7 separate regions of the Homo sapiens genome follow, and all the other regions are reported to be linked to region 1. The links are microRNA targets in miRTarBase. Many come from high-throughput screens and were not tested one by one. Region 1 holds a microRNA gene; each other region holds the end of a gene's coding sequence. Distances are from middle to middle.

What was found. The annotated mature microRNA hsa-miR-548az-3p reads AAAAACUGCAAUCACUUUUGC and lies in region 1 at 1,063-1,083, opposite strand. An mRNA with a match to its seed (bases 2 to 7 or 8) in the 3' UTR can be bound and repressed. Matches are read on the target gene's strand: a 7mer-m8 pairs with bases 2 to 8, a 7mer-A1 pairs with bases 2 to 7 and ends in A, and an 8mer does both.
Region 2: the mRNA of ATP6V1G3 is a reported target of hsa-miR-548az-3p. Seed matches in the 3' UTR shown: 7mer-m8 at 534-540.
Region 3: the mRNA of ST6GAL2 is a reported target of hsa-miR-548az-3p. Seed matches in the 3' UTR shown: 7mer-A1 at 2,308-2,314.
Region 4: miRTarBase lists SCIN as a target of hsa-miR-548az-3p. The part of its 3' UTR that is shown has no 7-base or 8-base seed match.
Region 5: the mRNA of CYB5B is a reported target of hsa-miR-548az-3p. Seed matches in the 3' UTR shown: 7mer-A1 at 2,258-2,264.
Region 6: the mRNA of TNFRSF10D is a reported target of hsa-miR-548az-3p. Seed matches in the 3' UTR shown: 7mer-A1 at 1,215-1,221.
Region 7: the mRNA of LMLN is a reported target of hsa-miR-548az-3p. Seed matches in the 3' UTR shown: 7mer-m8 at 1,370-1,376 and 8mer at 251-258.

The regions. Positions count from the first base shown.
Region 1 is chr8:119,322,736-119,326,310 of GRCh38, reverse strand. It overlaps MIR548AZ (microRNA 548az), which reads right to left and starts at 1,140; the gene lies at 1,046-1,140.
Region 2 is chr1:198,520,339-198,523,913 of GRCh38, reverse strand. It overlaps ATP6V1G3 (ATPase H+ transporting V1 subunit G3), which reads left to right. Exons shown (of 3, transcript NM_001376861.1): 3 at 350-692. The coding sequence ends at 523. Among named protein-coding and RNA genes, the nearest start is that of ATP6V1G3, 19 kb to the left of the region's middle.
Region 3 is chr2:106,803,743-106,807,317 of GRCh38, reverse strand. It overlaps ST6GAL2 (ST6 beta-galactoside alpha-2,6-sialyltransferase 2), which reads left to right. Exons shown (of 6, transcript NM_001142351.2): 6 at 369-3,575. The coding sequence ends at 640. Among named protein-coding and RNA genes, the nearest start is that of ST6GAL2, 81 kb to the left of the region's middle.
Region 4 is chr7:12,652,134-12,655,708 of GRCh38, forward strand. SCIN (scinderin) reads left to right here. Exons shown (of 16, transcript NM_001112706.3): 16 at 455-3,575. The coding sequence ends at 582. Among named protein-coding and RNA genes, the nearest start is that of ARL4A, 34 kb to the right of the region's middle.
Region 5 is chr16:69,462,169-69,465,168 of GRCh38, reverse strand. It overlaps CYB5B (cytochrome b5 type B), which reads right to left. Exons shown (of 5, transcript NM_030579.3): 5 at 1-2,739. The coding sequence ends at 2,649. Among named protein-coding and RNA genes, the nearest start is that of CYB5B, 39 kb to the right of the region's middle.
Region 6 is chr8:23,134,802-23,138,376 of GRCh38, forward strand. TNFRSF10D (TNF receptor superfamily member 10d) reads right to left here. Exons shown (of 9, transcript NM_003840.5): 8 at 3,387-3,459; 9 at 787-3,202. The coding sequence ends at 3,069. Among named protein-coding and RNA genes, the nearest start is that of TNFRSF10D, 27 kb to the right of the region's middle.
Region 7 is chr3:198,037,883-198,041,457 of GRCh38, reverse strand. LMLN (leishmanolysin like peptidase) reads right to left here. Exons shown (of 17, transcript NM_001136049.3): 17 at 1-2,891. The coding sequence ends at 2,791. LMLN-AS1 (LMLN antisense RNA 1) reads left to right here and starts at 1,991. Exons shown (of 4, transcript NR_046669.1): 1 at 1,991-2,009; 2 at 2,234-2,311; 3 at 2,600-2,710; 4 at 2,795-3,137.

The DNA.
Region 1 (3,575 bases):
CAAGAATCTTGCTTTTTGATTACTTACTGTTGTGCAAGCATGCTACATTGCAGACCCTTCTAAAAAAGCCCATGAAACACTGTTGGGTAGGGTCCACGAAATTACACATTTTAGCTGAATGTCTAGCCAAGGGTTAAAGTCAATATTCAGCCTAAGTTGAAGTTGAAGATGAATATCACTTCATGGCATGAACTTCTGGGAAAAAAGAATAAATATTAAAATTTCCACATTTTATTTTAATTTTGTCATTAAAAATGCTCAAAGTCAAAGTGTATAATTTGACATTACTGTACAACACAATGATTTCCCAGCCTTCTCAGTGGAGGTCAATACACTAAACCTGTGTAATCCCAATACAGTAGACTCTCACTTTCAATTTAGATCAAAGGAGGAGCAAGCTATTCTGTTTTGAGCTCTGCCATTGTAAATATTGATGGTGAAATGGACCCTAAGATAAGATTTTCTGGGAAGAATTGCAACATATAAAGCATATATGGATATTAATTTTTACTCCAAGTCAATTTTGAATATATTTGAAAGTGAATGTTTAGGTAGTAATACTACACTTTGAATGATATGCAATCCTTCTAACTAATATTTTTATGGTGATAATAATTTTGGTTGTCTCATCCTTGATCATCAGCAAGTTTAGAGTTCCGGAGATGATAAGTAAGTCTTTCACTATTCTTCCAAAGAGCAAGCTTGAATCCCAAAACAAATTTTGTAAAATTTCCACGTCAAATCAAATTCTGGTACATTTGTGTTGTGGGTAATTTCTTATTGCATAGTATCCATACTCTCAACACCTTCAATATCATTTACTTTGTTGATCAGCATATGCAGTACCAAAGGAACTTAAAGTTGCCAAAGCACACAGGCCGAGTCTGTCTTCCATATTCTTATTATTGGTTAGTTGTTTTATATGAATGATTATAAGATGGCAGTTTTGATAGACCAGTCCCATGCTACACCACTGAAAGTGCTCTTGCCAGAGTCACCAATAATTTCTTTAACTGATCCTCAACTGACTTGATCTCTGTGCAGCAAATTTATTAGGTTGGTGCAAAAGTGATTGCAGTTTTTGCCATTAAAAGTAACAGCAAAAACCACAATCACTTTTGCACCAACCTAATACAATCTTGAATATTCCCTACTTTGTGAAATATTTTTCCCTATTATTATTACATTTTTTAAACTTTCTCTAATTACTCTGCTTTTTCCCAGTTTGTTTTGAATTTCCCTGCTTTCTGCTAATCTCTTGTATATGAATTTTCTTCCAGATTCTAGCCTAGATAGAATTTTTATTTTTTTGCTTCACGTAGCCTCTCTTTGAGGATTATATTTTTCATACTCACAAATTCAATTATATAATTTCAATCATGATTCTCAAATCTATATCTTCAGCCAAGATATTTCTCCAGAGCTTCAGATCTAATTTGTTAGTCACCTAGTAGATATCACCACATAAAATCCTATAAATATCCCCCTTTAGTGTCCTTTTTATCAGTGAAATTACCACCATCTACCTAATTATAAAAGCCAAATACCCAATAATTTTCCATGACTTGCCCTTTTCTCATTTACTTTTTATATGTAATCAGTTATCAAGCCTTGTGTTTCTATTTGATAAAATGGCTCTCCTTTTATTTTTTGCTTACCTTCATCTTTTGTTATTATCATAGTTCAGGCAATCATCTTTTGTCTTTAGTCTCAAAACACCTTCCTTTCTGGTCTTCCGTATTTTGAATTCATTACTTCCAAAAATGTTTCTATTGGAGCCAGAGGGATGGTTCCAAAAATCCAGTCAGATCATAGCATTATCCTGATTAAATATCATCCCCCATTACATTTAGAATAATACTTTGGGGGTTATTTATAAACTGCCTTCATTTAGCCACTCAATCCCATCTTTTTTCCTTCTCTCTTGTTTTCTCTGCTCCAAACATTCTGAAATTTTCTTTCTTTCTCTGAATAAATCATGATTATTCTTACCTCTAGGCCTTTGCACAAATAAAAGTTTTGATGAAGAAGTTTCAAGTTAATGGTTTGTGAATGTAAGACAATTCTATTTTTTTTTTCAATAACTGTTGCCAGGTTTGCTTTGTTGAATTCCTTCCCTGCTGGGCAACAAGAAACAGTGATATCTCAGTTTGACAAATAACTTTTTATTTACTTCTGATTAAAAATAGTCTTAATTTGGGGTAGTAAAACTTTCCTTTTTTAAAAGCTTGTGCAGGGCTTCTGTATAGTATACGTATTGAACAGGGTTTATGTGTCGATATGGATAGGGTTGGATGTGTTGTTGGCTTTCTCCCTCTCTTTATCTTTTTCCCAGTGCCTGTTGTATTGATGATGATGTAAAGGGGTGTGTGCATGTTGTGGGTGGGGGGGTGTGAATGTGTGTACGTGTGTGCATGTGTGGATGTCTATGTAGTATGAAGGGGGAGATGGTAGAGGAGTGGGATGTCTTTGCTTATGCTGTATTAGTGATAGTGAGGTGTTATGGTTGAATCACCTAATACACACTGTTTCCTTATGTCTGGTGTTGTTACTTGGTCTACACTGAGAGAAGTCAGATGCCAGGTTTAGAGTTATAATAAGATTGATCTGATTTTTGGAAATATCCTTCTGGCTAAGTTGAAACCCATTAGGAGTAATCAATTAGAAATATAGGCAGTCTTCTAAGGCTGACAAAAACAATAAATTGGGGAAGGACTCCGTATTCAATAAATGGTGCTAGGATAACTGTCTAATCATATGCAGAAGAATGAAACTGGACCCTTTCATCATATACACAAATCAGCTACAAATGGGTTAAAGATTTTAATGTAAGACCTCAAACTATAAAAATCCCAGAAGAAAACCTAGGGAATACCCTCTTGACATCAGCCTTGGCAAAGAATTTATGGCCAAGTCCCCAAAAGCAATTGCAGCAAAAACAAAAATTGTTAAGTGGGACCTAATTAAACTGAAGAGCTCTCCACAGAAAAAGAAACCATCAACTGAGTAAACAGACAACATATAGAATGGGAGATAATATTCCCAAGCCATGCATCTGACAAAGGTCTAATATCCAGTCTATAAGGAATTTAAACAAATCAACAAGCAAAAACCAAATAACCCTATTTAAAAATAGACAAAGAACGTGAACAGACACTTCTCAATAGAAGACAAGTGGCCAACAAACATGAAAAAATGCTCACCATCACTAATCATGAGAGAAATACAAAGCAAAACCATGAGATACCATCTCACACCAGTCAGAACAGCTATCATTAAAAAGTCAAAAAACAGCATGTGCTGATGAGGCTGTGGAGAAAAGGTTACACTTAGACACAGTTAGTGGGAATGTAAGTTAGTTTAGCCACTGTGGAAAGCAGTTTGGTGATTTCTCGAAGAACTTAGAACTACTATTTGACCCAGTAATCCTATTACTGGGTATATACTCTTAAGGAATACAGGTCATTCTACCAAAAAGAGACATGCACTCATGTGTTCACCATACTATTCACAATAGCAAAGACATGGAATCAACCTAGGTGCCCATGAGTGGTGGGCTGGATAAAGAAAATATA
Region 2 (3,575 bases), not on the chromosome of region 1:
AACAATAGGGAATATATGGGAACTAAATGGAAACTGTCATAAATACATGAAAAATGTGATGGAAAAGAACTTCTGGGCATGGTTTAATGATTATAAATGTGTATTCAATTTGTACCATGTGGAGGTTGGTTAAAAGTGAAAGTAATCTGCTATGACCAGTTTCAATATTTTATGAAAGTTCATCCTTCCCACTCATGGCATTGATGATCTTGTTGGTTCTCTGAAAAAATCTAGAAAAGGAGTACATAATTGTGCATTGTAGGACAATCATCAGTAAACAGGCTAGGACAAATTTAACTTGTAAAACAATTGTATTATGATGTGAATTCTGTCTGTTTTGTTTTGGTAGATAATGGGCTCTCAGAATAATCTCTCAGATGAAATAGAAGAACAAACACTAGGGAAGATACAAGAACTTAATGGACACTACAATAAGTATATGGAAAGTGTGATGAACCAGCTCTTGAGCATGGTCTGTGACATGAAACCAGAAATCCATGTGAACTACAGAGCCACCAACTAAATGTACATCACAGTTTTCAAGAAAAAAAAAGGTGTGTGAGTGCCACCTGGTTGCTTATGGCTTCGTATTTTTATGTTGAGAAATTTGAAATGAGAACCTTAAATTTACATTTACAGGAAATGTGACATAACTCATACATCGGCACTGAATTAAACAAAACAAAATACAACTGTTGCTATATCTTTTCTAGTAATAATTATGACCTTGTCACTTAACTTGGAGTAAGTCAAGAATGCAAAATAGTAACATGTTTTTTAACACTTGAAAGAAAAACATGGTCATGACAGCTTTTTAGTGGGCATGGGTTTTTTATTTCTTCTCCTTTTCATCGATTTAGAAAATGTGCTCTTAATTGTATTAAATGGTAATTTGCTAAAAGATAATCTTTAAGCAAGATATAATTATGACTCTTCAACAGATCTAAAAATGAACATGTCAAGGGTCTTATTTAATTCAGTAATCAATGGGAAACCAGTAAAACAGAGAGATAGAGACAAAGAATGATGGGTTATATAGCCACTTTTAAACATAGATGGGGTTTATAATCATTCTGTCTGTCTGACCTCAACTAAACAGATATTATTTTTAAAAGAAAAAAGTAAATGATAAATAAGCTAATAACATAGATTTTGGAGCTTTGAAAAAAAAAAAAAAGAAATACAAAGAAAACTCCCAGGAGATATACTAGGTTAGTGTGCCACTAGCCCAGTCTCCTAGTTACAGCTAAGCTAAACTCTTGTTAAATACTAAGTATTTTGTTAGTGCAATGTATATATCATCTCAATCCTACCTTGTAAGCAGTATTAGTGCTCTTGTTTTACAAAATGAGATGCAAAGATGAAGGAACTTATCTGGAGTTGTTTGGATAACAGTGGCAGCACTGAGCTTTGAACTGGGCAATGTGACTCCAATGTTCACACCCTTTACTTCTTACCAAACTGCTTACCTGCACAGCTCCTATATTTGCATTAGTAAGAAGCATGGGTGCTATAAAGTCTTTGATTTTCCAGTAATATATGCAGACAAATTTTAATTCCAGTCTAAACAAAAGTTAATTATTGTCACCAAACTATTCATATAATCTTCAATTATATGAATCTCTGATTATATGTATAGTTTGGTAACAATAATTAACTTTTGTTTAGACTGGAATTAAAATCATAAACTGAAATGGTTTTAATTGATCATTGTTTTAGATCAGTGGTCCCCAACCTTTTTAGCACCAGGGACCAGTTTCGTGGAAGACAATTTTTCCAAGAATGGAGGGGTAGTGGGGTAAGATAGTTTTGGGATGAAATTGTTCCACCTCAGATCATCAGGCATTAGAGTCTCATAAGGGACATGCAACCTAAATCCCTCACATGTGCAGTTCACAATAGGATTCGCGCTCCTATGATAATCTAATGCCGCTGCTGATTTGACAGGAGGCCATGCTCAGGTGGTAATGCTTGCTCAACTACCACTCACCTTCTGCTGTGTGGCCCGGTTCCTAACAAGCCACAGACAGGTACCAGTCTGTGGCCCAGGCACTGGGGACCCCTGTTTTAGATCACTAGTATCATTGTTTCTTTTTAGGAGAAAAAGTTAAAATTTTACCACATATCTTAGTACCTCGGAAATAGTCAATTTTATATGCATGTTAGGTAAATGGAGCAAAATTTGAATTCTATTTGTTTCTCCATTTTCCCAACTTTGGGGGCAAGGAAAACCAAACCAGTTGATTGGTTTTATGTGGTATATTTCCCCATTTATTAGAATGAGAACTGATTGCCAATTAAAGAAGAGAAAGATATCAAATATTCCTAGGAACACTGGCTCCCATTTTTTGAGGGGGGTGGAGGAGAAGGCATCAATTAAAGTTGTGTCTCCCTGACATTAGGACAGTGTTGGAGGATTTCTACTCAACACAGATTTGGAGAATTCAATTACTCTATTCTGCAAAGCTTAGATAAATAAAATAATGAGTAAAATTGCACATTTTGGGAGTTATCACGTGAAAAGATAATTCTGAAAAAGATAGCATTGTGATTTGCCTTATATCATAAGATGCAGTTTTCTGTCTTGTCTCATGAAAACCATCAAGACGCCAGTTTTCTGGATGTGAAAGCTTGAATATGTTATATGGAACACTCAAGTTAATAATAAATTCCTGAGCCAGCACAAGAGAAAGGATATCTTTTAGGCCCTAAATACTATAGAAACACATTAAAGTCAGTAGAGGATTTTTCTCAGAAGTAAAGAGGAGCCAGGTCTAGAAGAAAGAGATGAGACTTAGGCATCAGCACACTGTACATCCAGTCCTGCCAGCGCCACAAGCTTTCTATGTCCTATTGGCAACTCACTCAACCTCTCTGGGCCTACGATTCTTTTTTAGTGCTGTAATCTGAAAATGGTGTTGAAATAAATGATCTCTGTAGGCCCTTTAACACTTATTTTTACATACTAAGTCAGACCAATTTTTCAAAAGCAGTATTTATTACTTTTAGTTTTTTCATTCACTACTGTAGTATTTGTCAATTTCTCAACAATCTCACGTTTATTCTAAACACTGTATTGTTAAGAGTATGTGCTGTTGCTGCCCCCAATATCCTAGATTCTGTGTAGTTTGCATATTTTTACATTCAAATATGGTTTCACATCTTTGCCTAACTGAATGAGTCATTTTCTAAGAACTCTCACACCTTCACAGATGGTAGAGCTGCCAGGTTTTACTTTATTTACATATGAAAAGGTTTTATGTATTTCAGAGCTAGCTCACTTATCTGTGAGAGCTTTCTCAGTCACAGAAAAAAAGTTGACTTTTTTGTACGTATACTTATACTAAAAGGCTTTTTCTGTTCCGATAGATCTTCACACAGAAATAGAATAGTGTTAGCATGTTTTTAATTGGTCTTTACCCTTGTTTTGATCCTTTGCACAATCAGAAACTACAAAATGAAAAATTATTCCATTGAGTTCTTACTCATTTCCATTGCACTTAAAAACAAAACCATGCAATTTACAGGCTTGCAAAGGAATGCAAGGATTTCGGTTTTTATTCTCGATGTTAGCA
Region 3 (3,575 bases), not on the chromosome of region 1:
GGGACATGTGTATAGAATGTGATACAGGAAACTCTGATTTGGGGGGTTGCAAATCTGTCCTTCACTAGCGTGTGGTTCCCTCAAGTTCACTGACTTCTTTTCATCTCTCCTTACCAGGCCCACAGTGATAAATTAAATGAGCGAATAGATATATATATATATAGTGTTACATTTTAATATGCCCCCATACTCCATGAACTGCATACACACCACTTAATGGAAGTTATAACATTGCAAATGCAACAACAACAAAAAAGTAAGTGTCTCTTGCCACAGTCATATCCCATCACCACCACCCCTCCCCCAAAAAACTCATCCCTCTCACATGGAGTTGTTCATTAGGTTCTAATTTTTGGTTTTCATGTCAGGAATCCTCATAATGATGTCCATGTGCAGAGAGGTGCACGTGTATGAATATATCCCATCCGTGCGGCAGACGGAGCTGTGCCACTACCACGAGCTGTACTACGACGCAGCCTGCACCCTCGGGGCGTACCACCCACTACTCTATGAGAAGCTCCTGGTGCAGCGCCTGAACATGGGCACGCAGGGGGATTTGCATCGCAAGGGCAAGGTGGTTCTTCCCGGCTTCCAGGCGGTGCACTGCCCTGCACCAAGTCCAGTCATTCCACACTCTTAAAAAGGGTTTCTTGGGAATCAATGTGCAATAAGGTACTACTGTTGTACTCAAAGTCACAAAAGAATACTTGAAGATAGATTTTAGACAGTGTAGTTTTGAGTCTTTAAACAGTAATTTAGTGGTGGTCATGATAATCCTTCTCTTTCTAAGCCATTGAGTATGTATTACTGCTTTGAACATAGAAATGGTTTTTTTAAAAAAATAAGGCTCAAGAAAGATGCAAAACCAAGGATAGCTAGAAAGAAAACACATGTATGACCATGGGTATGATACCTCCAGAAATGTTAACAACTTATTCTTCTGCCATGAGTACCCCTCATCAGGGTTGGTTTCAATGACAGGTTTTGGTGATGTTCCTGACCATATGAAGTGGTTTATGTTTAGAAACATTCAAATTGAGGGACATCATTTACAGCATCGAGTGTGTCAGTTATACATGCATTCATCATTAAATATCCTAGGTTTTATGACAGACATTGAAATTATCACTCAGATGTGTTTAACAGCAAAAAATTCCCAGCACATCCTGGCAAAGGCTTTTATTTCCAACCGTTGCATTCTTCATCTCTGCCTCCCATTGCCCACTGAATGCTTTGCTTTCTGTGCATCAAGACAGAGTTCTAAAACCAGAAAACATCCATCTTGAAAGGTCCAAGAAAAAGCCAAATTCCATATAGCACCACAGAGGAGGCCCTTTGTTTCCCTGCAGTATTTCAACCAGGAACATTAGTATCACATCCACCAGGAGGCACATCACTGGCAAGTAACATAGAATCACAGGGCTGCAGGTGCCCCTGGACACTCCCCGGTTCTGGCTTTTCTGCCTTGTACCTCCTCACCTGCAGATCTACCCTGCAGCTTTTGCATAGTCAGTGACACACTTGACAATTGGCACAGCTGTGCTGGGGAAGACGGGAGACACCTTGCTCCTTCCAAACTAGAAGGAAAGATTTTGGAGCCATCACCCTGTGCTTCTAGGGATGCACGCCTGTCTTTATTATACAGGTTTCTTGCAGGTTTTTATCAGCCAGTGGGAACTCCACAGTGATGAGCACTGAATCTTCACTAAATCTTCCTACAGACATTTAGGAATCCAGTCCTTGCTTTTGCAGATATGTTTTATGTCAGCAGCATGACAAAGCCATATAATTAAATAATTTATGTGAAAGCATTGCTTATTAACAAGGAAAATATGTAGATGCTTCAGAGGGAAAGGCAGCTAGAGGGAAATTTTCATCCCAATATGTTAGCTATATTCAGGGTTGATTTTTTCTTTAATCTCAACTGTCACTGATACATTGAAAAATTTTTGCTATGAATATAGTGAAACAGAAACATTCTGTAATACCTTAATTAAACATGCTATTATTTCAATGTATAACCAAAACATATCTCCATGGTACAGTTAAGACTTGTTGCAATGACAATAGCAGCTTAATTAAATGCGTTCTCCCTTGCAAAATGTATGAATGTCAGGAGAGTTTAGTGGAAAAGTTTTCTTTGTTTCAGGATTGGTTTCTTCTAGACTGTTCTCAGGACTACTTTCTTGAGCAAGAATGGCTTACAGAGACTGAAGGCTTCTGTTTGGTTAGTCTATTCAGCAGATATGGAGCTGGAAAACAAGACATCTCCTATAGCTTGCTATAATAGTGAAGGAGAAATTGGAAAGTTTTAATCACAATAATATCCAATAAAAGCCCATTTTGAGAGTTTTGTTATTAAGTCAATGAGAAGGGATAGGTAACTTTGTCCTATATATTAACTTATGTCTAAATAGACATGGTTAAGCCATGTTCCTTTCTAATTTCTTTTCTTTTCTTTTTTTTTTTTTTTTTTGAGACAGTCTCTCGCTCTGTCGCCCAGGCTAGAGTGCAGTGGTGCGATCTTGGTTCACTGCCAGCTCTGCCTCCCACGTTCACACCATTCTCCTGCCTCAGCCTCCTGAGTAGCTGGGGACTACAGGCACCCGCCACCACGCCCAGCTAATTTTTTGTATTTTTAGTAGAGACAGGGTTTCACCGTGTTAGCCAGGGTGGTCTCGATCTCCTGACCTTGTGATCTGCCTGCCTCGGCCTCCCAAAGTGATGGGATTATAGGCGTGAGCCACCACCGCGCCCGGTCATTCCTTTCTAATTTCTTGAAAAAACTTTGTCTTGTCCTTATGTTTACATGTGTGTAATAATTTCAGCAACTCTGGAATGTGGGTGAGGTGGCTGTGGTGGATGAATATTACTCCCTACCCTCCTTGGATCTTTCTAGATCTTCCAGACCATTAAATGCCCCTGAAGCTCCTTTTATAGTTTTGCAAGTGGATTTACTTGTAGACATCCTTACTATCCAGCATAATCCCCCTTGGCTGACATGAGAACTTGGTTAGAGGAGAATTTATTGGGGTCAGTGTAAATATTCAAGTTCAAAAGCCTCAGAACCCAACACTTTAAAGATTTTTAAATGGAATTTTGTCGTAGTCATTGTACTTTTAAAATAGTACTTTCAGTTTCATTGAGGTTACAAGAAAGACTGAAGAGTACAAAGGAAATTTAGTTACAATTTTTGCATTTATTATGGCCTTAAAGACTCTTGGGAATCAGGCTCTGTTCAACAGTCAATAAATGTAATACACACATTAATATAGTACTGACTGGGCGTTCTTCTATAAAAGTTTAAGTTCTTTGGCTTCTAAGAAAATGTTGGGCAGTTACAGTTAACTTGATGACTACTTCTAGTATTAGCCAAATGGGTCCTAAGTGGCAGCATTTTGCCAGACATTGACTAAATCCTTACATGCCACATTTACTGAATTCCAATAAACATATAGTTCTTCTGTGGAGTAGTTAACAGTAAGTGGCAGCTCACTGAATTTCTCCCAGGTTCTGTCTCTTCCAAAATCCTCCATCCTCTCTTATGAAGGGAAGCTGATAAAAAAAAATCCTCT
Region 4 (3,575 bases), not on the chromosome of region 1:
TAATCTGAAAACTTAAATTAATTTCAACCCTTGTTTTATTATAAGAGTAAAACCTCCATGACTGTGATAAGCCAGATTTTTTAAACTTCCTTTTGACTATGCTGTTCTTTCTGGCACAATTTTCCTTTTACTGAAACGTATAACAATAATTATGCCACAAGGACAATTCCATAAAACTTGGAATTCTTTCAGGCATTAATGAGATTCACATGTTGCCTTTCATGGCAGACGAGAGAAATCAAAAAGAAATTGTATTTGTCTACCTGGTCAATGGAAATTTATTACTTTGATTTGAAGAATTGTATTCGAAGAATTTTCATTTTCAATGTAGCCAATATTTATTTGTTCTTCTGGAAATTTAATTCATTACTTTTATTCGAAGAATTTTCAATCTGCAGTTACTTTAGTTTAACCCAAACTAACTGAATTTATATGTCTTTACAACTTTTTTTAGCCAAAATGTACCTTGAGACAGACCCTTCTGGAAGAGACAAGAGGACACCAATTGTCATCATAAAACAGGGCCATGAGCCACCCACATTCACAGGCTGGTTCCTGGGCTGGGATTCCAGCAAGTGGTAAATTGGTATTTGTAAAAAGCAAACAAACATTACAAGGCAGTTATCTCATTGCTGTTTTGGGAGAGGAACGGGAAAAGCTTTTTGCTTATTTGTCTTTTGAAAATTAAGGCTGGGCGCGGTGGCTCACACCTGTAATCCCAGCACTTTGAGAGGATGAGGTAGGCGGATCACTGGGGTCAGGATTTCGAGACCAGCCTGGCCAACATGGCGAAACCTCGCCTCTACTAAAAATACAAAAAAATTAGCTGCGCGTGGTGGTGCACGCCTGTAGTCCCTGCTACTTGGAAGGCTGAGACAGGAAAATTGCTTGAACCCAGGAGGCTGAGGTTGCAGTGAGCCAGGATTGCGCCACCACACTCCAGCCTGGGCAACAGAGACTCTGTCTCAAAAAAAAAAAAAAAAAAAATTAACCTCAACCAAACGCCTATTTTTTAATGCTTAGTTTTGGCTTGAAATTCTTCTTCACCTGGAGTTTTCTTACGTTAATACATTAAAATAACCTGAAGGAAACTTTCGTTATGGGCCAATATTAGCTCTTATGGAAACTGATTTATATCTTTTTTATGACCTTTCAAAAGTAAAATACTATGCATAATCTAGAAAGATTTGTCAGATAGGAAATTTTATAATGCATTAGCCATTAGTCAGAGTTGTTTTTTAACATGCCAGAGAAAAAGTTGTAATGCCTTGGAAGTTATTCTCTTTTCTATAGATTGTGTTCAAAAGATGTGTATACTTGCAATAAGGTTTATGTTAAGGTGGCTTTAACAATTGGTTGCTATTTTCCTTCTTTAGTCAATATGACTTTGATGTCATTAACTGCTAAGTGTTATTTTCTAAGAGGAATTTTATCTTTTTTTTAACCTTATTAAAAGCCTTTGAAAACACAGCTCTTTCATGACAAAATGAATTGTATTGTTATCCACTTAGATACATGTACATGTACAGTACATGTTTAATATCACAGGAGATCAAAAAGACAATGCACAGGGGAGTATCCCAGGGAGCAGAGCCAAGTTCAAGTAAGTTAACGATATCAAGTTACTTACTGGCAGGTAGCCACTAGAGAATCTTAGCAATTTTTGTCCTGCAAGATTTCAGCAAAGCTACAGAAAAGTGAGTTTTTATGTTTTCCATTCTTCCCTTTTCTAAGTAATAATTTTTATCGCAGTTACCCTGATTCTATTCCATTCCATTCTATTCTATTCTATTATTTCATTCTATTTTATTTCCAATATACCATTGTATATCAGTATATACTGATACACTGAGTGGCAGTTGCATTATCTACTAATCTATATAGGTCATTGAAAAAGAAGAAGCTACGTTAGAACCCATGGAAAGAACTTTGCCTCATGTAGAGATTCTAGATTCTTAGCCAAAAGCTCAGAATTGTTGGGCCCTAAAGGATGAACAATGTAGGGTCCAACAATTCATCCCACATGAATTTTTCTCATCCTTCATGTGGAATGAAAAAACTAAAGAGACAACTGACTTACCACACAAATGGACTATGGTAGAAGCTGCTGTCCCTTAGTATTGAATATCTCTATTTTCTTTTAATCATAGAATTCACTGATATTTTAGCAGATAATGTGGCCGTCCAGGCAGGCATGAGATTTCTCAGCCTTACTTCAACTTGATTATGACCATGTGACCCAATTCTGACATTTGCCTAAAGGAAAATTTACCTAAAAAGGCGTTTTCTTGCTATGGCAGTGTAACCTGTACTAATAAATATAGTGCTAGTCCTGCATGCAACAAAAATGATGTAAGTAGACATTTAACATTTCTAGGAATGTAATTGAGTGAAAAATAATTTTTAAAAATATTTATAAATATCTTCTGGGTCAAGCTGAATATTTTTTGAAGGATGATGAGAATAAAATGATTTAATAAGTAGTACTTTTTCACAAAATTAGTAAAGGTCAAGGTGAGTGGCTTAGGGTACACTGTATTTTACGATGTTTCTCTAGTTTAGCCAGTGGTTTTTCTCATCTCCAATTTATAGCACAGGCCGAGGCATATAGTAGGGTCTCAGTTAATATTTATTGAATGGCAATATCAAAAATGAGATCAGCAGCAAGATGATAAGGCAGAATAAAAGTTGCTGAGAGCCTAAAATGATTATTCAGTTCTGTTGCAGGGTTTTAACCTGCCCAAAGGATGGAAAAAGAAGAACATAAGCATAATTTCTGAATGCATCACGGCAAAGATGCATGTACTCATGAAGCATAAAATTAAAAATATGATACATTCACTACATGAAAATATGATATACGGTTTTTCTTCAGTATCCGCGGGAGATTGGCTCGAGGAACCCCATGGATACCAACATCCTTGAATGCTCAAGTCCCTTATATAAAACGGCATAGTATTTGCATAAAACCTATACCATTCTCCTGTATACTCTAAGTCATCTCTGCGTTACTTATAATACCTAATACAGTGTAAACGCTGTGTAAACAGTTGTTATACTATATTGGTTTTTTAATTTGCATTACTTTTGTATTGTTGTATTATTTTATTGTTTTTCCCCAAATAGTTTTGATCCGCAGATGTAGAACCCACAGATATGATAAATCAACTGTATCTAGTACCCAAAACAGATGAGTAACTTAGAAATTAATATGTAATACATACAGCTAATGTTATAGCTACTTAAGGAATTCCTTTCACTGAAAAGAAACTCTTACAAATCAATGAGTCAACAACCCAATGGAAAAATGGCCAAAAGACATGAATAGAAGTTCACAGAAAAGAATGAAAATGACCAGTAAATAATGAAAAGATGTTCTAAGACACTCTTAATTAAATAAATTCACAATAAAATAATCATACTTTTATCTATCTACCAGATTAGCAAATGTTAAAATATTAAAATGTTAGTGGTCATCAAAATGTAGGGTTACAGGTTCACCCATACACTGTTAATAGATGTATAAACTGGTCAAAACTTTTTGATCCATAGCACAGTATTACTTTTGTAAACAT
Region 5 (3,000 bases), not on the chromosome of region 1:
ACCCCAGAGACCAGCTCCAGGTGGCACTGTCAGCCAATGGGGACTGGCTCCACTTGCTCTCCAGAGGGTTTTTCACCAGCTACCCATGTCAAGACTGTTTTGTGAATTCAAGTCTACTTCCTAAAAAAAAGGTCCTTTTGGATGGATTTGGCTAGTGTGCTATACTACTTTATTGTATAGAAAAACCTCTGCAAACTCTCACACAAGATTTAGCTTTCACCTGGCTGTTTTTGTAGGCAACAAAATAACAGTAAATGGACCCCAAAGTGATTTTCCAGATACAAAGTGACATCACATCGGCAGTAGTTCAGAAGAAGCCCTGGGTACTGGGGGATTTCATGGGTGGAAGAGACAAAGTCTAATTATCTTTTCCTCTGGCTCTCAGCAAAAAACAAGTGCAGATGTAAACAGGAAAAGAAAACCAATGTGAAGTAGAAAAACATACCTTTTGCATTGGCATTTACCTTAAAAATAACAAAAACACCAATTTTACTTAAGATGGTAGTTCTTTAACATTTCTTATAAGCCAGATGTTTTTCATTCAATTTCGGACATTGCCAACACACTTTTACAACTGATTCAAGTTATCTTCAGGCTTGGCTTTAGTTTGAATGTTCCCTTTCAAGCTCCTCAATACTCCTCTGTTCTTTACTTTTACCCCAATGTACTCCAATAATCACGCAATTTATTTATTACAGGCAATCATATACCAATCCTTCCTTGCCTTTAAATAGAGAAGCATCAAGTCATACCACTTTTGTTAAATAATAACCAAAGTTTTTTTCAATATTGTCTTAAAAGTAGCATCTTATAATGCATACAAACATTTTTCTAAAGATAAAAGCTTTACTAAACCCATATCCCTGATAATAAAAGTCAGCCAGAAATCTCCTAAAATTACTCCCAAATATATCCAAGTGTGCAAGTACAAGGTTAATATTATTTTGATGAATTCTGTATTCATTCAACTGCTAAATCACAGGATACAAGACCTGGGTTGAACTTTTTCTTAAATAGTTTACATGGGCAGTCCCTGGTTTGCTGGGCAGTTTCCTGTCTCATCAAATCCCTGGCAAGCTGGGAGGGAGGGAGGAGATGCTGAGCAGCCTCTATGGTCCTTCTTGAACCAAGCTGCTCCCTGCTGGATATGACAATGGCTCAGAAGCAGACTAGCAATTCTCAAAGGACAGGGAGAAAAATCACCACAGTTGCTGGCAGAAAACAGCCAGTGTACTATTTATTTCCTCAAGTGCTTCCATGGGGGAAAAAATAAAAGTCTAATATGCCAGAGAAATCATCATTGAACCAATAAGACACAGTAACATAATTCTAGTAACCTACTTCTCAATGAACACACATCTGAGAAAAAAACCGCCAGTATTTTATTCTCATGGAAAAACAGAACAAACCCACAAGTTGGAGTCACGGAGATAAAATACAGATGAAATGGAAAACGGTCTGTTGTCATGAACTCTCACTTTCAAATACCATTTTATATGGAAGTTACTTTACTGCGGGGCAAACAGAAGGCCATGCTGGAGTCTCTTACTTTTGGAAAATGGAGAATCAAAAATTTGCTAATCAACAAACAAAAAAGGAGGGAAACTCCTTGGTAAAGCTCTACAAACATAATTATACATTTATATTTTACCAATAAAAGATAGCTAGGGTAGAAAAAACAGATGGTTAGAAACTGGTGCCAAACCAAAGTGAAAGCTTTGGTGCCTTCTCTAAACTCCTATCCTGTTTCTTTAGAAAACACCAGTTTTCTAAAGAAAGATTACTCTGAATTCACCAGGGTTCTATCACCCCAATTCATCCCTACCTTTCCACCCCCAAGACACGAAAGGGCCATGTAGTTTTTTGTCCGGCACCACTTGGGAAGGGGCTGGGCTCAGGGGCTGGGAAGAGCTACCTGCTGCCCTAGCTTGAAAGGGAGGAGGTGGCCACACCATTCTTTGTATTTTTATCACGCACATAAAAGAACAAAAATCATTTGGCAGTTTTAAGTTTAATAGGTGCAAACCTTTACTTCAGGAATTAAACCCCTTATGATAAATAAAAGAATTAAATCAGATTTTTTTTTAATACAGATAGGGGTCTCGCTATGTTGCCCAGGCTGGTCTTGAACTCTTGGCCTCAAGCGATCTTCCCACCTTGGCCTCCCAAAGTGCCAGGATTACAGGCCTGAGCCACCACACCTAGCCCTAAATCAGAATTTTTTAAAAAAAATTTACTTAAAAGAAAAATGGAAAAATAAAACTTTCAACACTAGACTGCCGCCCTGTTAAGAATGTCTAATATGCAATCAAAGTATTGGAAAGCAGGCATTTTTACCAAAGAGCAATGTCACTATAACTTATGAACAGAAAGTTGTGAAATATAAGGGTACTCATGGAAACCAGTGAAGAGAGGAAACACCGGCAATTGTTCAACACGGAACAGTGAGCAGGTACTTTGGGAGTAAGGCTCTGAGAGATGGAAGACGCTGGTCTCAGATCTGAGGTGATGTCTGGCCAATCGTCTTGGCTCCAAGGGGGAAGAATGCAACTGGCAGGATTCGAGGAGAGGGCACTTCTGCAGCCCCCAAGCAAGTCTCTAGTTTTCGCCCCAAAGTGGATGCACTTTCTAACTTCAGCAAGGCCTCCTCAGGAGGATTTGCTTTCCGATGTGTAGTAGCGGTACAGGAAACCTAAGAGAACAGCGCCTATGATGGGTAAAATCCAATATGCCCAGCAACTAGGAATAGGGGGAGAAAGCAATAAAGTTGTTAATATTTTAAGCCAAATGTTCACTATCTTTCAGCTTTCACATGTTTTTATATAGGCAAGGAGTTTTTATTTACTTTGGGAAATTTAACTGCTTTTATCACAAAGTAGTTGGGGAAAAATATTTGAATTGGAGTGACAATATTACAAAGTAATTTTTTAAAAGGTTAAAAACAACCAATAGTATGATATCAAATAAGATGTCTTTAAATGCCTCTATATGTGTTTCTAC
Region 6 (3,575 bases), 96 Mb from region 1:
GGGCTCAGAGCTCAGGAGTCACCTTGCCTGAGAAAGATGTTCTAGCTGAGAGGGCCTGGCCATGGGGTGGGCTCCAGGAAAACGCTGGTTAGGTCTGGGATAGAGCAAACTTGAAACAAAGACAACCCCTGCCATGGCTGTGTGGCGCCAAGACTTGGAGATCAGGGGTTAAATCCTCATAGACAGTAGGCGGTGGCAACACAAGCAGCTCTAACTCTGGGGGAAGCCATGTTGCCCAAGCCCAGGCCCCTCCATGCTCAGCCTCCATGCAGCTCACCCAGCCCAGGGTTCCAAGTGAGGCCATGGGCAGTGCAGGCGGGAAGCAGGAGGTAGCATGGAGCAGCCGCAGCCCCACCTCCCCTCTAGGGAAGGCAGACAGCATGGGAGCACGCCTGGGCCTCCTGGGAGCTGTGGGCCAGAGGGAGAGCAGGTCCTCCAGCGCAAGGGGAGTGGGAAATGGCTCTCACAGGTGCCTGCAGGGCTGAGCAACCTGGGTCCACTGATGGGGATACAGGGAAGGGCTGCTGTCCCTCTCCCCAGAGGGAGGAGCAGACAGGAGAGAAACAGGGAGGAGGCGCGAATTCCAGTAGCCAAGAACCTGGTCCTTTAAAATCCAGGGAGTCATAGGCAGGAAACTCCCCCCACACCCCCACCGCCAGGCGGGCCAAGCCTGAAGGCAGAGAAGGGACAAGTAAGGAGGCCCAGCAGGAACGAAGCCCTGGCCTCCTGTCACTCAGAGCTGTGTCACAGCAGGAGAGGAGGATGGAAATAAACGAACACCACACCTTTTTAATATGAGGTTTCATATTTATTTTGGTCATAAACATATGAGTATTTCATATATAACCAGGTGTTATGTGCTATTTGGCCCGGGTATAAAGCAAAACCTAAACAAATCAACCAACGCCAAAAAACCCCAACAATTTCATGTTGTCAGGAAGCTTATGTTAAAGGAATAAGCTTAAACACTGATAAGGCTGGTAGTCTAGATGCATCTTCAAGGAAGGCCTCTGAGGAAGGGACAAAGGAGCTGGGACCGGACTGGCTCTCTCTGAGCTTTGAGACCAAGTCTCCTGCACAGAAGGCCCAGCAAAGGCAAAGACTAGGAGGCAGCAGCACCCTGTGTCATCCAGAAGTGCAGGGGACAAGGTGTGGGACGCCAGATGGAAGTGGGAGAGGATGGAAGTGCGAAGACCGGAAAGGCCATCCCCTCCTAAAACTCCATGGACACAACAATCTGAATGTGCGAACTTCAGGCAGTTCTAACTTTGTCCCAGCCAAACCAGTCCCGGAACAAAACACACAATGCCTTGAGATGGAAAAGACTGAAACCCCTAGAATGACTATATCCGTAATTTATCCTACCACGACTGGGCTACTGTGGAGAAGAGTTTGCTGGAAAGAAGCTAAAACGATTACTGAGGTTTTTAAATAAAATAATGGAACGTGACACAAGGACAAATGTGTCAGCCATTTTAGATCCTGTTGTCACAGTGTTTAAGAATTGATATCTCTGAGATGAGTCAGATGCTTACAGAGGGGCCAAGCTCCTCAAACAGGGAATCTGTACCCTAAAACGCAGCTCAGGAATCTCTGCCCTAAAAGGCATCCCAGGGACTCAGTTCACAGACCACCAGAAGCGAGAGGGGCCCATCCATGCCTGAGTCGGCAACCATTTCACACCATTCCCAAGCACCGTCCACTCTTCCCTCTTGATGCCATGGCAGATGCCGGGGCAGATAAACACCTGCTCTGCCCTGAGCCCAAATGAGGCTCAAGATTCACTAACGTTCAACTGTAATGGCGCTTGAAAGAGAAGCTCTTCGCAGTCTCGGATCTAACTTAATTCTCACTGTCCTCATCTGCTGTGGACAAGTCGGAAGATGCAGTCCCATGACTGTCCCAGCACGACAAACCAGACACATGGCTTCCCAAAGATACCAGGCTCTTCAAAATCCTGGGCATATGTAAACATCTACTTATAAATAAATAAATAAATATTTATTTATAAATAAATATGGCTATATACCTCTAAAATTAACAAGTAAGACAAGCTGCCCCTTGAGAAGCTGCCAGCCATCAAACCCTGGTCCAGTCTCAGGGCGCAGGAGGGAGAACTGGAATGCAGTAAGTGCCTCCCACAGAGGGAGGATTTCTCCCTCCGTCACTAGTTATATTTTTAGTCATTTTTGACTGCTGATTTGTATCCAGGCAACCCATGTAAACAGCCTAATAAGTGCATTTCCTAAAGTTTTTCCATGTTTACATCATTATACAAAAATCGGAAAAGAGATGTACAGCCTACAGTAGTAAGCAATATAAATGTTTCTCTAATTAAGGTGGGGGTAAGCCCCAATAATCCTATCTTAAAGCTCAAAACTCTAAGTCGAACCCTCGTAAGTCCATATGCTCATGACTTAGCATAGGGCTACGTCTTGATAATCTCATCATTAAGTCAAAAATATCCGAAACTGAAAATACAGGTAATAACAAGATAATCCCGTTCTAAAGTTAAAAAACTATAAGGCAAAGCATTGTGGCTGTGCGGCATCTGTAGTTAGATGTCATTAAATGCACACACCAGTAGAGATGGAGCTTGCAATATAAGAAGCAGAAAAAAAGACTTGTCTCATGATGAAGAACTGCAAAGAATGACATCCTAAAACCACTTTTTTTCTTTTTAAATTGAGATGGAGTTTCACTGTGTTGATGAGGCTGGTCTCAAACTCCCGAGCTCAAGCAATCCACCTGCCTCAGCCTATCAAAGTGCTGGGATTACAGGCATGAGCCACCGCATGTGGCCTAAAACGACCCTTAATACACAATCGTATAACTATGCAGCCAAGAATCTGATATAAATTTCTCCCGTTTGCTTATCACACGCAGTATTTCATAAAAATTACTCCAAGTGCGTTAACAAAGTTCTAGGACCATTGGTAAGCTGCCCCATATTGGATAGTAGAGTTTGTTGGGGCATGGGTCAAGTACTGGACTGTTTCTTCCAGGCTGCTTCCCTTTGTAGGAGAAAAGGTAAATGAGGGAAGCTCTGGTTTCCTGAAGAGATTCTTTCACAGGCAGGACGTAGCAGAGCCTGCCTCATCTTCTTCATAAAAGAGCTTTTCGGAGCCCACCAGTTGGTCCTGAATTGTTTCCTTTGCATGTCCTTCTTCCAGTGTTGCCGAGGCATCCAGCAAGGTGCTGACTGAGAAGAGAGAAGAGATTTAGGGTCTCAATGCTCCAAGGACGATCAGCACAGGATCGACATGGGGCCCCCTGCTTCCAGCAGTGAAACCTCCAGAAGAGCCCTCTCAGCTATAGGGACAGCAGTTAGGACACCGTCCCTATTCCCTGTCCTCCTGCTGCGTCTCAAGGCACAAAACACTTACTGTCAGCGGAGTCAGCGTCATTCACTGGAACCAGCAGCCTCCTCCTCTGACACCCTTCAGCTTCTGCCTGTTCCTGTAACACACAGTGGGGAATGCTCTGGTCAGAGTCAGGAGTCCTGCAGTCTAGTACTGACCCTGACCACTAGCCAGCAAGAGACCTGCAGCGCTTTCCCTCTTGGGTCTCCATGG
Region 7 (3,575 bases), not on the chromosome of region 1:
CACACTGCCTGAAGGTAATTTTATACAATATTTTTAGTAGTTTGTGCATGAAACAAAGTTTGTGTTAAGTACTTGTATGTGGAATTTTCTACTTGTAGTATCAGGTCAGCATTCAGAAAGTTTCAGATTTTGGAGCAATTTGGATTCTGGATTTTTGGATTAGGAATGCTCAACCTGTATTAGCTTCTTTTTAGTTAAGTTGACTATGTTTGAGATTCCCAGCTTTTCACAATGACAAATACCTCCCATTTAAAACTGCATGCAAATACATACTTTAAATTTATGCATTTGAAAAAAAAGCGACTTTCCTCTGTGCTGGGGTTGCTGTTGGCTCTAGTGCCAAATAATCAGAATTAATTCTTAGTAATTATGTTGCTTTGCTCACTTAGCATAATTTCTTCAATGGAGTACTGAATAGCTATATGCTGAATGGACGAAAAGCAGGGAAGGACGAGGAAAGGAGGAACAGAAGGAGTCTGTCCGAGGGTTGTGGTTACAATGCCATGGAGGAATAGGAGGAGTCTGTCCGAGGGTTGTGGTTACAATGCCATGGAGGAATAGGAGTCTGTCCGAGGGTTGTGGTTACAATGCCATGGAGGAATAGGAGGAGTCTGTCCGAGGGTTGTGGTTACAATGCCATGGAGGAATAGGAGGAGTCTGTCCGAGGGTTGTGGTTACAATGCCATGGAGGAATAGGAGGAGTCTGTCCGAGGGTTGTGGTTACAATGCCATGGAGGAGTAGGAGGAGTCTGTCCGAGGGTTGTGGTTACAATGCCATGGAGGAGTAGGAGGAGTCTGTCCGAGGGTTGTGGTTACAATGCCATGGAGGAGTAGGAGGAGTCTGTCCGAGGGTTGTGGTTACAATGCCATGGAGGAATAGGAGGAGTCTGTCCGAGGGTTGTGGTTACAATGCCATGGAGGAATAGGAGGAGTCTGTCCGAGGGTTGTGGTTAGAATGCCATAGGACTTCATTAGCTTGAGAGAAAGAATGGGCATCGCCTATCATTCATGAATATATTTTTTCTTTTTTCTTTTCATATTCTTGTTAAACCTCATCTAGCCATTAAAAATTACTAAATGGGGCTGGTAAGCTCTAGTACCAGTGTAAAATTGCTTCTGGGGACCGGAATCTATGTAGTAACAGGAGGAGTGTCAAATGCAGAAGGTAAAGGATATTTAAAGCGAAGGCAATCTTCCAGCTTCTGTGGACTGAGTCTTACTTAAAAGTGGTACAGTGGACGCTACTGGATAGGCTCTACACCAAACTTATACCTTGCTATTAGTACACAATTCAGACCATCCTTCTTAAACATAAAACCATTTTCAGATGTTAGAAATTCTTCTGCAACAATTTCTTAACCCATTTTAAAAAACTGCATACCCGTCTTTACCAGAATTTCTTTTTATCTTCATCGGTCACAAAGGAATAGTTGTGTTTTTGTTGTTTCACAGTTGTCTTAAGTATTATCTAAAACAATACAATTATTTTTTTTCTGTTTGCATGTCTTCCATGTTTTTACAGGGCAGAGTATTTTACTCTCTCGGCTTCCACATTTTTTCATGTCATTATTAAACTCATGGAGAATACAACCAGAAGCTGAGCTCTGAAGAGGGATGAATACAGAGGGCTACCAGCACAGTGATAGCAGTTCTGGAAGCTGGGCTCTGAGGAGGGATGAATAGAGGGCTACCAGCACACTGACAGCAGTTCTGCCGTAAACTGCCACATAGCTGGCAAAAAGGGCAAGCACGGTTAAATCATAAGATTTAATGAAACATTATTTAAAAAAATTCTTTAGAACAATGGGAACAGTGAATTAAGTTTACTATATACCAGCCATTAATTTTTTTTTTTTTAAGATACAGGGTCTAACTCTATCGTGCAGGCTGGAATACAGTGGTGCAATCATAGCTCACTGCAGCCTTGAACTCCTGGGCTCAAGCGATCCTCCTGCCTCAGCCTCCCAAGTAGCTGGAACCATGCCTGGCTGCCATTAAATTTAAAATAGGTATAATAATGATATGTAGAAATCCCAATTCCATTATTTTCTATAACTCAAAGGACAATTTATACTTTTGAGGACAAGATCTCCAATTCTAATCTTGCAATAATTGGCTGTTGTTTAAGTGACTGCAGTATATGGATGATGAACTTTCCCATTGTTGTATGTTAATAAAAATGTTGAGGTATGTAATCACTCTGAAAATTCCACCCATTATCCTATTTTCAAAGGAAAACTTTGGGAAGATTACAAACCCTGAAAAATGAAGACTTGGTGGCTTGCAGTTCCTTCTCCTTCTCCAAGATGAGGTGGTTGGGTTGCTGAAGAAGGTGGTTGGTTTGCTGATGAAGGTGGTTGGGTTGCAGATGAAGGTGTTGAGTTGCTGATGAAAGTGGTTGGGTTGCAGATGAAAGTGGTTGGTTTGCTGATGAGGTGGTTGGGTTGCTGATGAAGGTGGCTGGGTTGCTGATGAGGTGGTTGGGTTGCTGATGAAGGTGGCTGGGTTGCTGACGAGGTGGTTGGGTTGCTGACGAGGTGGTTGGGTTGCTGACGAGGTGGTTGGGTTGCTGATGAAGGTGGTTGGGTTGCTGATGAAGGTGGTTGGGTTGCTGATGAGGACAGGCTGCTGTGAAGTTCTGCTTCAAGGTCTGATGGTCGTCAATTCTTCCAAGCCAAAGCCAGGAATGCCACTTCTACCATCTGCATAGGTTGGCACTCACTCAAACTTTGTGCTTTGTTCACAAGAACATAACATAAAAGAATATCTTGAAGATCCACTTTTCCATTCCTAGTGCCATATACACAGAAGAAATCCAGCCAGCAGAGGAAACAGATTGCCTAGCAGAAGCCAGAGGGTGACCACCAGGCTCGAGGAACAGGAACAAAGATCTAGAGTTGAAAACAAAAAACTGACTTTCTATAAACAATTTTGGGATAAATCATACCAATTAAATATTGACAGATGAAGAGCAGTGATTATTAAAAAGTAAACAAGGACCACCTTGAGAGCTAAATCAAGAGCAAAACCCAGGTATAAAAAAGTTTTTGTTTCTTTTTTAATGGAGGAAAAATATATATGGAGGAAGAAATGATGTATCCACTATGTCAAGGTTAAAAAATGGTATCCAAAAAAAATTGCCTTGGGGTAGTACCCCAGCAAAGATAAAGATCTTGGTTATTCTGAGATGGGGTGAAGAACTTTCTTCTTTTATTCTTTCTTTGTACCTTCTAAGTAGGGTGACCATATAATTTATCAACACAAACTAGTACATTTTGAGAATGCAAGGGTGAGTACTATTAATAATGACAACAGGCAGACGGACTGTGAGGATGCAAGGGAGAGGACCATCAATAATGACAACAGGCAGACGGACTGTGAGGAGGCAAGGGAGAGGAGCATCAATAACGACAACAGGCAGACAGACTGTGAGGAGGCAAGGGACAGGACCAGCAATAACGACAATAGGCAGACGGACTGTGAGGATGCAAGCGAGAGGACTATTAATAATGACAACAGGCATATGGATGGTCTCAGGCAGACCAGAACATATGGTCCCCTATTTCTAAATATCT